Linked DNA regions of Homo sapiens. The protein of the gene in region 2 interacts with the protein of the main gene of each other region in a pairwise test. Each region holds a gene or a part of one and is shown on either strand. Other genes may lie near its edges.

Region 1 (3,746 bases), on a different chromosome or scaffold from region 2:
GATACATATAATAAGGAAAGTACTAATAAATAAAAGCTATACTATTGGTTTCCCAAAACGCAATGTTTTTGAACATCAGTGGAAAATGTGGATGCTTATTACGAAATCTTCAGTTCTGAATTTTGATTATGAAAAGTAACCACATTTGATCATCTTTTCAATGACTTTCACGTGATCCACGCTTTATGCTTTAGGGAAGCAAGAAAATGTTAGGTTATATAATTCAATTTTACTTAATAACGCATAATAAAATCTGGATTTAGAAAACAGAATAGGGGTTTATTTGCAGTACTGAAGGTTCGCTGTCTTTACAATAAAATTGACTTAAACATTCAAGTATTTGAACATCCTAGTTCCTTTAAATTAAGAATACTCAAGAGTTACCCGGTGGCTCACGCCTGTAATCCCAGCACTTTGGGAGGCCGAGGCGAGCGGAACACTTGAGATCAGGAGTTCGAGACCAGCCTGGACAGCATGGTGAAACCCTGTCTCTATTAAAAATACAAAACATTAGTCGGGCGTGGTGTCGCGCACCTGTAATCCCAGCTACTCGGGAGGCTGAGATAGGAGAATTGCTTGAACCTGGGAGCCGGAGGTTGCAGTGAGCCGATAGGCACTGCACTCCAGCCTGGGCAACAGAGCAAGGCTCTGTCAAAGAAAGAAAGAAAGCAAAGGAAGGAAGGAAAGGTAAGAAAAGAAAATAAAGAAATATACTCTTTAATATAAATTCACCTCATACTAGCAACTTAGGTATTGAACACCTGCAATATACGTAATCAAACTTTCCAATAATGAGAACATCTTGCACATCCACAGGTATTTCCAAGAATTGAGGCACAACGGAATAACATAAACCAAAAAGTCCACAAGGTGCATTGTCTGTCACACATACATTGTAAATTCAGTTCAAATGTTCATTCCCAATATTTCAACAACAACAACAAAATTTTTTAATAAAGTCATTCGTCAAAAAAGAGGCTGGCGCCTCCAAAATCAAGCTCCATCTAACTCCTGAGTCAAATAATGATATGAAGTACCCGAGACGGACCAATTTTTTTTTTGTCAATATTTAATCTGAGGCTTTGGAAGTGGAAGAAATCTTAAAATAGCCACTCAGTCTTGTTTCCAGCCTTCAGGCAGCTGAAATATAAACCCCAGGAACACAGACCCTCCCTTCAGCGAAAAGTGTATGTGTGTATGTTTGTGTTTAAAGGCCTATAGCAGTCAGAGATAGGATCACTGCCGTTTTAGCAGTTTAAAAAAAAAAAATTCTACTAGAGAGGAAAGAATGACACAATTTTCTTCGTCACAGGAAAGTGGGCCTGGGGTATCCCAGCCACCTTCGCAGACGCTAAGTTATGGAAAGCAGCCAAAATTCTGGTATCAGGATGAGGCGTCCCCATGGGTTCTATGGAAACGAGAGACGCGGGGGGCCTAGCGCCTTCCAGGCGGCGGGCCGAGCGGCAGAGCTGCGCAAGCAGAAGCGGGGGAAGTGGCTCAGCCCAGTACTGCAGAGGGGCGCTCGGTGGCAGTCCCCGCAGCGGCACGGGCGAAGCGTCGCGGGGTCTGCAGCTGCAGCCCACCAACTCCGGCGCCGAGCGCGAAGTCGGGAGAGCTGGAACGAACTGCAGCTGGAGAAAGCGCGAGAGCCAGACACCGCTGCCGCTCACCCCAGCCGCTTCCTTCCTAGCCTCACAGCCGGGAGGCAGAAACTTCGGAGGTACCGCCCGGCGAAGAAACATCCCCACAGAGACAGAATACACTGTGTCTTCCTAGCTGAGCCCCTTTACCTTCCCGGTGTCTGGGATGCTTCCTTCGGTGGCAGCGGCGGCAGGGGCGACGACTGCCGCTGCAGCACTCAACTGCTTCACGAATCCGGGCTCTGGGAAACAATTTCCCGCCGCGCGCTAGGCAGCCCCGGAAGCGATAGTACCATTTCCGGGTGGTTGTCAGTGACGCTCCGGAGCCGTCGCCAGGGTGGTAATACCTGGTGCAGAGCTTGAGTCTGGCCAGCGGGTCAGGCTCTTGCTAGATCAGCACCGGAGGTGGAAGACTGGTAAGTGATTTTACTGGGTTTTCTCCTGCGCCTGATATTAATGGCTGGCCGGGGCTCTGTGCAGCATTATGGCCAGCCCGAGAAGTGAGTGGGCGAGGGTGGAACCAGAAGGAGTCCCCATCAAACCCCGTGGCGCTTGACACCCAGTGCAGCTGGAGAAGGCCCTGGGATCCCGGCTTACCGTCTTATCCACTCGCAAAATCTGTCTCCGACTTGGAACTCGACCTCGGGTCACCAAGTGTCCCTGGGCGAGGCCGAAGACACCGTGTACCGTGACTCGGCGTTGTGCCGAGTTTCTCTACCAATGATCAACGAGTTTCCTATCTCCCATTGGCAGCGTTTGGCCACTCTTGATTCCTGAGTACTGTTTCCGTAGTTCTGGGGTGCCGTGCCTGGAAGGCAGGAGGTTGGCTGAAGAAGACATCTTTTACAAACATTTAGGAAGTGAGATGGGGAGGTTCCTTCCTGATTTAGAATTAATTGAAGGTTCCTCCCGCCATTTGAATTGGATGAGAAGAACGGTCTTTGTTTTCATGGCTGAGACATAAGAGAACAAGCTTGTAATTTCATGCTTGGGCATTAGATGCATTTTTGGAAAGCAGTGATCAGTAAGTATGTGTGCTTTCAGAAAGGAATGCTTGCGTTCTGCTCCAGGCTTTGTCGATAATGAAGGATTCAGGAGAATTTTGGATGGAGGTCTGAGGTAGCCAGAATAGTTGTAAAGAGAAATTGCTTCCGACAAAGGGATAATGTGAGGAAAGGTGCTCATTTAAGATTTGAAAGATGTGATGTAGTGAACCTTGGCGACTTCTCTTAAGTAATGCAATTTCTTAGGTAACTAGTTTTCACTTGCCACCTTATATTTAGATAATTACCTCCCCACCAACCCCCGTAAAAGGCAGCTGACTGTTATTTTTTCAAAACAGTCAGTTCCCGAAAGAGTTGTAGGTACTATTGCATTTTTTTTATGGGTATGCTCCTCATACCCATAAAAACATTTTCTTTATCGGAGCATACCGATAAAGAAAAATGCAATATGTTCAATTCAAGGCCCCTGTTAACACCAGGCCAGTGTCTTCTTAACCTTTTGAGAGTAATGCAACAAACCATATTTAGGACAGCACATTGATTTTCTGGCCTTGTTGGTTAATAATTCAACAAACTTATAATCGCCCCATTAATCCCAATCTTGACATTTTGTTGAATCTTGTATTTTTTCTTTATTTCTCCAGTTGAAAGTATTATAAATTACTTCAGGGATATTATGTATTATATCTGTACAGCAACTAGTTTTTAGAGGCAGTGATTTCTCTCTTTGAATTGCTCTTGAATGTAGCCAATCATTAATACTTACCCCAAGTAGATACTGTCTGCCAGGCACTTTACATTTATTATTTTATTTAATGTTTAATAAAAAAAGAAAATCACAAAAATTGTATTATTTCTATTTTGCAAAACATTTTATACTGAGACCCAAAGAGGTTGTGATTTTCCATAAATTATACAATTAAATGGCACAATTAAAATTTGAATCCAGTCTACCTGACTCTAAATTTTGGCTCTTTTTACTGTGCTCTATACCTTTATAAGTAAACATAACAGTATCATTATTTTCACTCCAGGTAAAAATGGATAGATAGTATGTCACATTTAGAAATCAAGTGGATAGCAAAACTTGAGGATAAAAGGG
Region 2 (3,746 bases):
CCCAGCGCTCGCCCTGCCTGCGTTCAGAGGACAGAGGCACCACCGGGAACCCACCGGATCCTCACTCAGGCTTTGGAAAGGCCGAGTGATGTTTTGTGTTTGTGAATTCCACACATACTGTAGGAGTATCAAGAACACGTAACTGTTAAAAAAGGAAAAGTAAAATTACTGAACAGGAAAGAAAGAATAAAGCAGGTCCTTTGTTTTTTTGGCTGAGGAAAGCAGCCTGCCCTGGAACGCTGTAGAATGTCTCCCTTTTTGTGAAGCACAGCATGGAGCTCTCGGAACTGAAGATGGGAATCTAACCCTGCCCTCAGCTTTCAACAGCTCGAAGTTTGTCTTTTTAATGAAACTAATTTGTGTATTTATACTTAAGGGTTTTCAAGTCCTTAAACTTGATAAGAAAACTTAAGTCGTTTTCTATCAGGACAAGTTTTTAAGTAGTCACTGGTGGGAGAGCGTGCCTCTGTGGACTGTGCCCAAGGCTGGCGGTCCCACGAAGTCCCAGAGCCCGCGAGCCGGTGCCCAAGGCCATGTCTGTGATTTGCAGGAGGTTCAGGTGACAGGAAGGCCTGCTCTGTTTTTCTCACTTCAATTTTGGACTTTTTTTTTTTTTTTTTTTTTTTTGAGACAGTCTCGCTCTGTCGCCCAGGCTGGAGTGCAGTGGCGTGATCTCGGCTCACTGCAACCTCTGCCTCAAGGGTTCCAGCGATTTTCCTGCCTCACCTCCCCAGTGGCCGGAACTACAGGTGCTTGCCACCACTTCTGGCTCATTTTTGTATTTTTAGTAGAGATGTGGTTTCTCCATGTTGGACTGGCTGCTCTCGAACTCCTGACCTCAGGTGATCCCCCCGCTTCAGCCTCCCAAAGTGCTGGGATTACAGGCGGGAGCCACCGCGCCCGGCAATAGTGGAGGCTTGAAGAACACCGGAAAGTGGTTTCCTTGTACCGGACCCGCCCCTCCCCCACCATCCCGGCAGCCCCAGGGCGGGTGAGGGCGACTGCAGTGTGGTCACCTCAGGCTTTCCGTCCCTAGCTCATAAAGGCCCAGTGGCAGCAGTTGCTTTAAAGGAGCTCCGTTACTCCCTTTGTTCTGGGGTCTTGGTAAAGTTTGCTTTGCTGAAGCGGAGGAACCGCAGGCGGTGCTGACCCCCCCACCCCGCCCCCATCCCACGGGGTCCCTTGGGTCCCGGGGCACGAGGCTCCTCTGAGGGACACGGCCTCCAAGAGCTGGCTCTGCCCTGGCCGCCCTCCACAGTCACGGCGGCTCCCCGCATGCTCCTCGGGACGGAGATCTCCTGGCTTCCTCCCGCTTCCTTTCCTCTGCGTTTTCCGCAGAGCCGCCTCCCTGCTTTGGAAGCAGGTACTCAGCGGCCTCTGCAGCCGCCAACGGCACACAGGCCTCTCTCTGTTCGTTCTTTCTTTCCGTAACCGTAGCTTGAGGCACATTTCCTAAATATGCAGCATGGAACGCTTGGCGGTTCTGAACGCGCATCTCGTGCTGCTCCTGTAGGGCGGTTAGGACGCGCTCCTCTGGCGAGGAAGGTGGCAGCCTCCACTGTGCACGGGTCACAGGCGAGTGTGGTGTGGTGTGGTTGTGGGTGGGGTGTGGACTGGATCTGCAGGCTTGTCCCTCTCTCGTGGAGAGCTGTCGGGGTCCAGGCAGTGCTCAGTGGTGAGAGCCACAGCACATTTGAAAGTCCACATGTGTTTGCCCCACTGTGGTCCAGGACATGTGTGAGCCACACTCAGTGGACTTGCACCTGTGACATGTTGGTCAGCGTGGCGGCCGTCAGCTGGGTGTGGAATGCATCTGATTGGAGCCTGGCACCCGGCCTACCATGATTGTGATTCTCTGGGGCGAGTCCTGAGTGTGGGCAGGGCCTCAGGCCCCCAAGAGGGCTGTGAGCAGGCACCTTCCTGTGAGGCACGATGCCACCATGTGAAGTTGTGTGGGTCTTTGGAGAGTTCTGGCAGGTTGAGGGCCTGTGCGTGTGGGACCCAGGCCTGCCCTGCCTGCTGCCGGCCATGTTCCCTCTGCCCAGTCATGTTGACAATTGTGGCCAAATTCAACATCGGGCCTGTTTCCTGCACCCACGTTGGCACACACTGAGTTCAAGACAGTTTCTGCAGAAATGAATCCAGAGGTGTTTATTTCTGGCACGTTGGATCAGACGTTCAGAGGGTGGGCGTCTTTCTCCATGCACTTCAGCTGGATCAGTCAGTGTCAGCCATTGACTTTAGCAACAGGGAAATGAAAGACTTTCCTCAATAAGAAATGGGACTTTCTCACGCTGGATGGCACAGAGCTGGCAAACATGAGGCCAGTCCACACCAAGGCTTTGCCTGCAGAAAGGCTGCACTGTGGCCAGCGGGGGAAGCGGAGGAGACACCTGTGGACACCCTCCCCACAGGTGGGCACACCTTTGCGCAGGCCCAGTGTGCGTTCTGAAGGAGAGCCCAGGGTGGGGTTCCGGGACTGAGGTGCAGCCGTGTCCAGGGTGGGCTTCTAGCTCTGCCGCTGGGCGGAACTGGGGTAGGTCCCAGGGTGGGGTTCCAGGACTGAGGTGCAGCCGTGCCCAGGGTGGGCTTCTAGCTCTGCCGCTGGGCAGAACTGGGGTAGTCCCAGGGTGGGCTTTTAGCTCTGCCGCTGGGCGGAACTCGGGTAGGTGGGAGTCCTCACTTCTCTGCAGGGTGGTGAAGCTCTCTGGGTAGTGTGAGCAGTTCTCAACGTGCACCTTGGAAAGCGCCCGTTTTGAGGTTTAGCTGTGGCCAAGATAGATGACTTCATTTTGTTGCTTTTTGTTCTTAACATGGGGAGATATTTAGAAAACATGTTTGGCTCTTGCTGGGGAAGCAGTGCTGTTCCGTACAGTGTTTTACAAGCCGTGTTTCCTTAGGATTGAAAGAAGGTGGCAAGAGGAAGAAGCAGAAGCAGAGAGAGGAGTCGAAGAAGAAGAAGTCGACCAAAGGCAATCACTAGACCGGACTTGAGGCACGCGGTGCACCCCCAGACGCTGGCGCTCCACCGTGCTCGGCATGCGGTCGTGCACACGCGCTAGGTAGCAGCGTCGGTCAGGACTGTCTCGAGGCCACACTCGCTCGGCAGGATTATGCGATCACGGATCAGTCAGAGCAGGGTCAGGAGACGGGGCTGACGGCACGGGTGGCGGGGACAGACGTTTGGGACTTGGCCGCGACTCTCTGCTTCTCTCCAGCTCTCAATCTGCTGCATTTTCCTCTAGTGCTTCCGGATCCTCTTCATTCTTTTCGGCTACTCAACCACTCCGCATGCTGCTGGAATATTTCTGGCTTTAGAAGTACAGGAGGGCGCAGATGGCTAACTGAGTAACATTCATGAAATGAGGCTTTCTGTGGCGGCGTAGTGTTTGGAATTAGAAGGTAATTCAGTAGAGTGTAACTTAGAGAATATTGCAAGTGACACATTGAATCCTGCCCGTCAGGGCACCTTTTCCTCAGAGCAATCCGGCCACACGAATAGAAGGCTGTCGTGAATCACATCAGATGTAAAATCATTCCTTCTGTTTACTCTTTTAATTTTCATCCTTTGCAGGTAGTGCAAATTCAACTTCAAATATGGTGTAGGTTTTGCTAGATTCCATATTTTTTTCTTGGATTTTTGCTAATTATTTTTAGCAAAAAATTTTTGCTCAGTGGCACTCTCCCTAGTGTCCATGGGTTAGGGCCATGCTGGGGAAAACGGGCCGGTATTTACACACGCGCAA

What was found. Proteins that work in one complex are often made in the same cells at the same time.
Region 1: the proteins of DNAJB6 (region 2) and KIAA0825 interact in binary tests that used the Homo sapiens proteins (3 or more experiments, as listed by UniProt).

The regions. Positions count from the first base shown.
Region 1 is NC_000005.10:94,616,810-94,620,555, reverse strand, and holds the start of KIAA0825 (uncharacterized protein KIAA0825), read left to right. Parts: upstream 1-1,951; 5' UTR 1,952-2,056; intron 2,057-2,237; exon of another isoform or gene 2,238-2,325; intron 2,326-2,430; exon of another isoform or gene 2,431-2,664; intron 2,665-3,746.
Region 2 is NC_000007.14:157,413,116-157,416,861, forward strand, and holds part of DNAJB6 (dnaJ homolog subfamily B member 6), read left to right. Parts: exon of another isoform or gene 1-1,572; intron 1,573-2,900; coding exon 2,901-2,983; 3' UTR 2,984-3,746. UniProt on the Homo sapiens protein: Has a stimulatory effect on the ATPase activity of HSP70 in a dose-dependent and time-dependent manner and hence acts as a co-chaperone of HSP70. Plays an indispensable role in the organization of KRT8/KRT18 filaments.